2 linked regions of the Homo sapiens genome follow. The protein of the gene in region 2 purifies or fractionates together with the protein of the main gene of each other region. This does not show direct contact. Each region holds a gene or a part of one and is shown on either strand. Other genes may lie near its edges.

Region 1 (3,500 bases), on a different chromosome or scaffold from region 2:
TGACCCCAGCGCAAAGTACCATGGCATCCTCCAGGCCTCTAGGCAGATTCTGCAGGAGGAGGGTCCGACAGCTTTCTGGAAAGGACACGTCCCAGCTCAGATTCTCTCCATAGGCTATGGAGCTGTCCAAGTAGGTGGCAAGGGACCTGGCCAGACCTCTGGGGTCACGTTGCTCAGTGGAGGAGCAGAGGGAGGGTGAGGCAAGCAGGAATGCCGCGCAGGGCAGGACGGAAGAGGCAGGCCCCACGCTTCCCACCTGCCTCACCCGGGAGCCTTCCTGACCAGCAGTACCGTAGGCATTGCCCTCCGCCATGTCCCTGCGTCTATCCTGTGTGACTTAGGTGTTGCATCTTGGAGACCGATTTGATGTCATGCCTTCTGTGAGGCTTGGCGAAGGACAGCACTAATGCATTTCAGTTTTTGAAATACCACCTTCACATATGTGGTTCATCTGAACTTCACCACACCGTCATGAGGAGGGCAGGGTAGCTGTCATGTGGATCTCAGGGAGGAGAAGTCAGCTGTCCGAGGCCACACAGCCTGCACATGGCGGGGCTAGGGTTAGAACTCATGCTTCGTTCAGTGGAGCACTAGTATAGTCATAGTGCACAGCATGTGATTTTATGCAGTAGATGTGTTTAAGAACCAGCCCTGTACAGTGCAAACCATGGGCCAGGCCCCTGTTGGAAGCACTTCACATACACTCTGTCACAGCAGTCCTTAAGGTAGGGGCTGTTGTCCCTCCCATGTCATGCATGAGAAGACTGAGGTGGACAGAGCTTACATAATTAACCCAACCAAAGCCACTGGCTAGAAAATGGCAGAGCCACGACCCCCACCTAGGCAGCTAGTGCCAGAGATGTCCCTTCCTACTCTTCCTGTGACATCACAGTGACCGCCCAAGTCAGGTGCTTACTGGCTGGGCATGCCCTGCGATCCTGTCTCTGCACTTGTCTGCAAACAGATATTGCAGCATGACGAATAAATACAGCAACAGGATAGTCTCAAGAAGCCAGGCGTGGGCTGGACTCAGTGGCTCACACCTGTAATCCCAGCATCTGAGCCCGGGAGGCGGAGGCTGCAGTGAGCCACGATCATGCCACTGCACTTCAGCCTGGGCAACACAGCCAGACCCTGTCTCAAAAAAAGAAAAGAAGCCAGGCCATCTTCAGTTGGCTGAAGGAAGATCTGAGCATAGCCCTGGTATAGTGGCTCACACCTGTAATCCCATCACTTTGGGAGGCTGAGGTGGGAGGATGGCTTGAGCTCAGGAGTTTGAGACCAGCCTGGGCAACATTAGGGAGACCTCCTCTCTACTAAAAATAAAAAATAAATTAGCCAGATATGGTGGTACACACCTGTCGTCCCAGCTATTCCAGAGGCAGGAGAATAATTTGAGCTAGAGAAGTCAAGGCTGCTGTGAACTGTGATCGAGCCACTGCACTCCAGCCTGGGCAACTGAGCACGACCTTGCCTCAAAAAGCAAAACAGGGCCAAGCTCGGTGGCTCATGTGTGTAATCTCAGCCCTTTGGGAGCCCAAGGCGGGCAGATTGCTTGAGCTCAGGAGTTTGAGACCAGCCTTGGCAACATAGTGAAACCCTGGTTCTACAAAAAATACCAAAATTAGCTGGACATGGTGGCATGCGCCTGTAATCCCAGCTACTTGAGGAGCTGAGGTGAGAGGATCACTGGAGCCCAGGAGGTTGAGGCTGCAGTGAGCCGTGTTTGTGCCACTGTACTCCAGCCTGGGTGACAGAGAGACACTCTTGTCCCTAAAAAAAAAAAAAAAAAAAAAAAAAGAAAGATCTGAATGTAAGGGGGTCACCCTGTGGAACATGCTCCCAAAAGAATCTGCCCCAGAAAAGAATGATTCTCGAACAGTGCCGCCACCAGGTGCCGCCGCCAGCTGCACTGAAGGGGTCCCTGCAGGAATCAGAGCATGGCCGTCTTCCCCAGTTCTCAGAAAACTAAGTTAGCCAGTGACATTTTCTGATATACATTGTTCTCATGTATCTTTTTTATTTTTTCTTGAGACAGAGTCTCACTCTGTTGCCCAGGCTGGAGTGCAGTGGCGCAATCTCAGCTCACTGCAACCTCCGCCTCCTGGGTTCAGGCGATTCTTCTGCCTCAGCCTCCCAAGTAGCTGGGGTTACAGGCCCACGCCACCATGCCTGGCTAATTTTTGTATTTTTAGTAGAGACAGGGTTCCACCATATTGGCCAGGCTGGTCTCCAACTCCTGACCTCATGATCTGCCCACCTCGGCCTTCCAAAGTGCTGGGATTACAGGCGTGGGCCACTGCACCCAGTCTTTTTTTTGAGACCGAGTCTTGCTCTGTCGCCCGGGCTGGAGAGCGCAGTGGCATGATCTTGGCTCAGTGCAGCTCTGCCTCCCGGGTTCAAGTGATTCTCCTGCCTCAGCCCCCCAAGTACCTGGGACTACAGGTGCCCGCCACCATGCCTGACTAATTTTTGTATTTTTAGTAAAGACAGGGTTTCACTATGTTGACCCGGCTGGTCTCGAACTTGTGACCTCGTGATCTGCCCGCCTCGGCCCCCCAGAGTGCTGGGATTACAAGTGTGAGCCACTGCACCTGGCCCCCATATATCTTCTTAACCCTTTGAGTGTCTGACTCTACTCAAGTATCAAATGGCATCCGAGTTTTGCGTAGAATGTTGTATTTATCATATGCTGTCACTGCTCAAGAAGAACATTTCCTGACCTTTTCCTCGCCCCTCCACCTGGGCCCCAGCCGGGTCACGGGTGATGTATTTGGGGAGTATTTGGTCCTCACCCTCATCCTTTGGGCTGTCGGTGACTTCTTCACTTACTCTTGCAGTTCTTGTCATTTGAAATGCTGACGGAGCTGGTCCACAGAGGCAGCGTGTATGACGCCCGGGAATTCTCAGTGCACTTTGTATGTGGTGGCCTGGCTGCCTGTATGGCCACCCTCACTGTGCACCCCGTGGATGTTCTGCGCACCCGCTTTGCAGCTCAGGGTGAGCCCAAGGTGAGTGGCCAGGAGCCAGACCGGGGAAGCCCAAATAAGGAAGGTGTTGTCACAGGGGTAGCATTCTTTATTTTTTATTTATTTATTTATTTATTTTTGTTTTGTTCTGTTTTGTTTTGTTTGAGACAGAATCTCGCTCTGTCATGCAGGCTGGAGTGCAGTGGTGCGATCTTGGCTTACTGCAAGCTCCACCTCCCGAGTTCAAGCGATTCTCCTGCCTCAGCCTCCCGAGTAGCTGGGATTACAGGCACCCGCCACCACGCCTGGCTAATTTTTTTTGTATTTTTAGTAGAGACGGGGTTTCACCATGTTAGCCAGGATGGTCTCGATCTCCTGACCTCACGATCCGCCCGCCTCGGCCTCCCAAAGTGCTAGGATTACAGGCATGAGCCACTGCGCCCGGCCTATTTTTTATTTATTTATTTATTTATTTTGAGACAGAGTCTCGCTCTGTTGCCAGGCTGGAGTGCAGTGGTGCGATCTATTTTT
Region 2 (3,256 bases):
CAATAATCAAGTTTTTGTTGACTACCACCCAGGGATTAGTGGGGCCCACAAAACCACGTGTCAACAAGACACATCTACACCACACATCAACAACGAGTGTACCGCGCGTGTCTACACCACCCATCTATCCCATGCATCTACACGGCACATCCATATGCGTCTGTACCTCGTGTCTACACCACATGTCTGTACCACGTGTCTAGACTGCCCATCTACAACATGTGTCTACACCACCATCGGATTAATGCCTGCTGGTGGGTCAGCAGGGCAGGCAGGACACACAGAGGGGGCCACCAGCAGGAGCTGAGGGGCTCCAGGAAGGGAGTGACCCCGGGAGGCGTCCTCTGGGAGAACTCTGGGGGGCCAAGCTGGGCTGGAGCATGATTGTGGATATGACAGGAGAGGTAGAATAAACCTCACATTCTCCAAGGCCACCTCCAACCTCCTTAGGAAAAAAGTGAAGCTGGTTCCCAGGTTGGATCCCCTCCCACTTTCTCCCCAAGCGGAAGACAAAGCGGGGGTCTGAGTGCCGGGCGTGCACTGTTGTGGGTGCCCTTGGCCTGGCCCGGTGCCTCCTTCCTGGTCATGCTCAGGCCTTGACCTTTAATGGCCTGGTCACCTCTGAGCATTGCTCTGTGGTTGTGGCCTGACTGTGTGGCAGCTCATAGACACAGAGAGGTGTCACAGGCTGCAATCCAGGCTACCCATGTGAAACCAGCAGGCCATATCTTCAGGGCTGTTGGGTTCCCAACTCTATGGCTGCTGGACTTTGTTGTGTGCTGGCACTTCAGAGTCTGCAGAGAGGAATGAGGGGTGCTGGCCTCAAGCCAGAGCAGAGATGTATTCCTGGACAAAGGGCCAGCAGCCCAGAGGGCTTTGAATAGGGTCTACCCAGTGGGACAGACAGCCAGGACTAATGGGATGGAGGGAGGAGAAATCCCTGAGAGCTTCCTGGGGGAATCACTATTCAAAAGCACATTCTAAGTGCCTGCTGGGACAGAACTGCTTACAACACCCCTCCGACCTGGTGCTTGGTTTTCCCCCTTAGCAAAGGGAAGTGTTGTCACCCCAGAAGTTGCAGCTCAGGGGCCAGAGAAGCTGGTTTTCTAGGGTGCACGCAGGCTGGGCTGCTTCTCTCCACTCTAAAGCTAAGTCTCTGCCTCAGCCCACAGGCTTGTCCAGCACCGCCCTAGGATGCACTTGTCTCTCTCTCTCTCTCTCACCTCACCCTGTGGGGGATGGGGGACTCAGAGCCCCACCCCCAGGGCCTCTGAGGCTCAGGACAATCGTTGCCTTGGCTAGATTGTTACCTAGGAGACAACCCCCTGGCCCCCTGGAAGAGGCCTCAGCAGGCCCAGGCCACCTGGAGGGAGAGCAGACCTGCGGCTGAGGATGCAGGGCTCCCGGGCACGGTGCTAGCCCTGCCTTGAGACACCCCGAGAGCTGTGGGAAGAGCTGTGGGATCCCCTATTGCATCACAAAGCGGCCCTGGAGGGCTGGTCTTTATTTTGATGAGGCTGAGAAGGGAAGGCTGCGGGCATGTTTAATCCGCACGCTTTAGACTCCCCGGCTGTGATTTTTGACAATGGCTCGGGGTTCTGCAAAGCGGGCCTGTCTGGGGAGTTTGGACCCCGGCACATGGTCAGCTCCATCGTGGGGCACCTGAAATTCCAGGCTCCCTCAGCAGAGGCCAACCAGAAGAAGTACTTTGTGGGGGAGGAGGCCCTGTACAAGCAGGAGGCCCTGCAGCTGCACTCCCCTTTCGAGCGTGGCCTGATCACAGGGTGGGATGACGTGGAGAGACTCTGGAAGCACCTCTTTGAGTGGGAGCTAGGCGTGAAACCCAGCGACCAGCCCCTGCTTGCAACGGAGCCCTCCCTGAACCCCAGGGAGAACCGTGAGAAGATGGCAGAAGTCATGTTCGAGAACTTCGGCGTGCCCGCTTTCTACCTGTCGGACCAGGCGGTGCTGGCTCTCTACGCCTCTGCCTGTGTCACGGGCCTGGTGGTGGACAGCGGGGATGCGGTCACCTGCACTGTCCCCATCTTTGAGGGTTACTCCCTGCCCCACGCAGTCACCAAGCTCCACGTGGCGGGCAGGGACATCACGGAGCTCCTCATGCAGCTGCTCCTGGCCAGCGGCCACACCTTCCCCTGCCAGCTGGACAAGGGTCTCGTGGACGACATCAAAAAGAAGCTGTGCTACGTGGCCTTGGAGCCCGAGAAGGAGCTTTCCCGGAGGCCGGAGGAGGTCCTGAGGGAGTACAAGCTGCCCGACGGGAACATCATCAGCCTCGGGGACCCGCTGCACCAGGCGCCCGAGGCCCTGTTCGTGCCCCAGCAGCTGGGCAGCCAGAGCCCCGGGCTCTCGAATATGGTCTCCAGCAGCATCACCAAGTGTGATACCGACATCCAGAAGATCCTCTTTGGGGAGATTGTGCTGTCGGGGGGCACTACCCTGTTCCACGGGCTGGATGACCGGCTTCTCAAGGAGCTGGAGCAGCTGGCCTCCAAGGACACCCCCATCAAGATCACGGCTCCCCCCGACCGGTGGTTCTCCACCTGGATTGGAGCCTCCATCGTCACCTCTCTGAGTAGCTTCAAGCAGATGTGGGTCACCGCCGCAGACTTCAAGGAGTTTGGGACCTCCGTGGTGCAGAGAAGATGCTTCTGAAGGCCGCTTCTCGTTGGGTACCGTGGGGGGTGAACCCTAGCCCCAGCTTTGGGAGGATGTTCAATAAAGGACCAATGCCGGAACACCTGGCCACCTCGGCTCAGTTCCTTCTTGGGGGCGGCAGAGTCATTTCTGGCCCTGACAGTGAATCTGTGAAGTGTCTTGGTCCACACCCGCTCCCCTTCGCTTCCTCCCAAGAAAGCCTGGGCTGAGGCCAGGCTGTGTCCATCTGCAGTTTGTATGAAAGTAGGGCCCTGGGCCTCAGGTGAATAGGGCGCTGGAGTCCGCATTCTAAACAAGGGTCTTAGGTGGGCTGAGAGAGTCGGCAGGGATGGTGGGGACTAGCGCGTGCACCAGGTTCTGACGGCTCAGCAAGAAACCCCTCCCTGTGTGGGCCCTACCTAGCATGCCAGGGCCGGGGCTCTGCTTGTGTGAGGCCGGGCGGCTGAACAGGGTGGAGCTGCCGCTCTCAGCAGATAGGAACAGACGGGAACAGAAGTCACCGTTTGTTTAGGGCCCTCTAAACTCAGGGGTCCTGCTCCCAAAGGAAGTACAAAGAATCAACACTTCTGCTTAGCAAGTG

What was found. Proteins that work in one complex are often made in the same cells at the same time.
Region 1: the proteins of ACTRT2 (region 2) and SLC25A19 purify together in Homo sapiens (affinity purification with mass spectrometry; one large-scale study listed by BioGRID and IntAct). This does not show direct contact.

What each region holds. Positions count from the first base shown.
Region 1 is NC_000017.11:75,282,934-75,286,433, reverse strand, and holds part of SLC25A19 (mitochondrial thiamine pyrophosphate carrier), read left to right. Parts: coding exon 1-130; intron 131-2,840; coding exon 2,841-3,011; intron 3,012-3,500. UniProt on the Homo sapiens protein: Mitochondrial transporter mediating uptake of thiamine diphosphate into mitochondria. It is not clear if the antiporter activity is affected by the membrane potential or by the proton electrochemical gradient.
Region 2 is NC_000001.11:3,020,148-3,023,403, forward strand, and holds ACTRT2 (actin-related protein T2), read left to right. Parts: upstream 1-1,319; 5' UTR 1,320-1,539; coding exon 1,540-2,673; 3' UTR 2,674-2,756; downstream 2,757-3,256.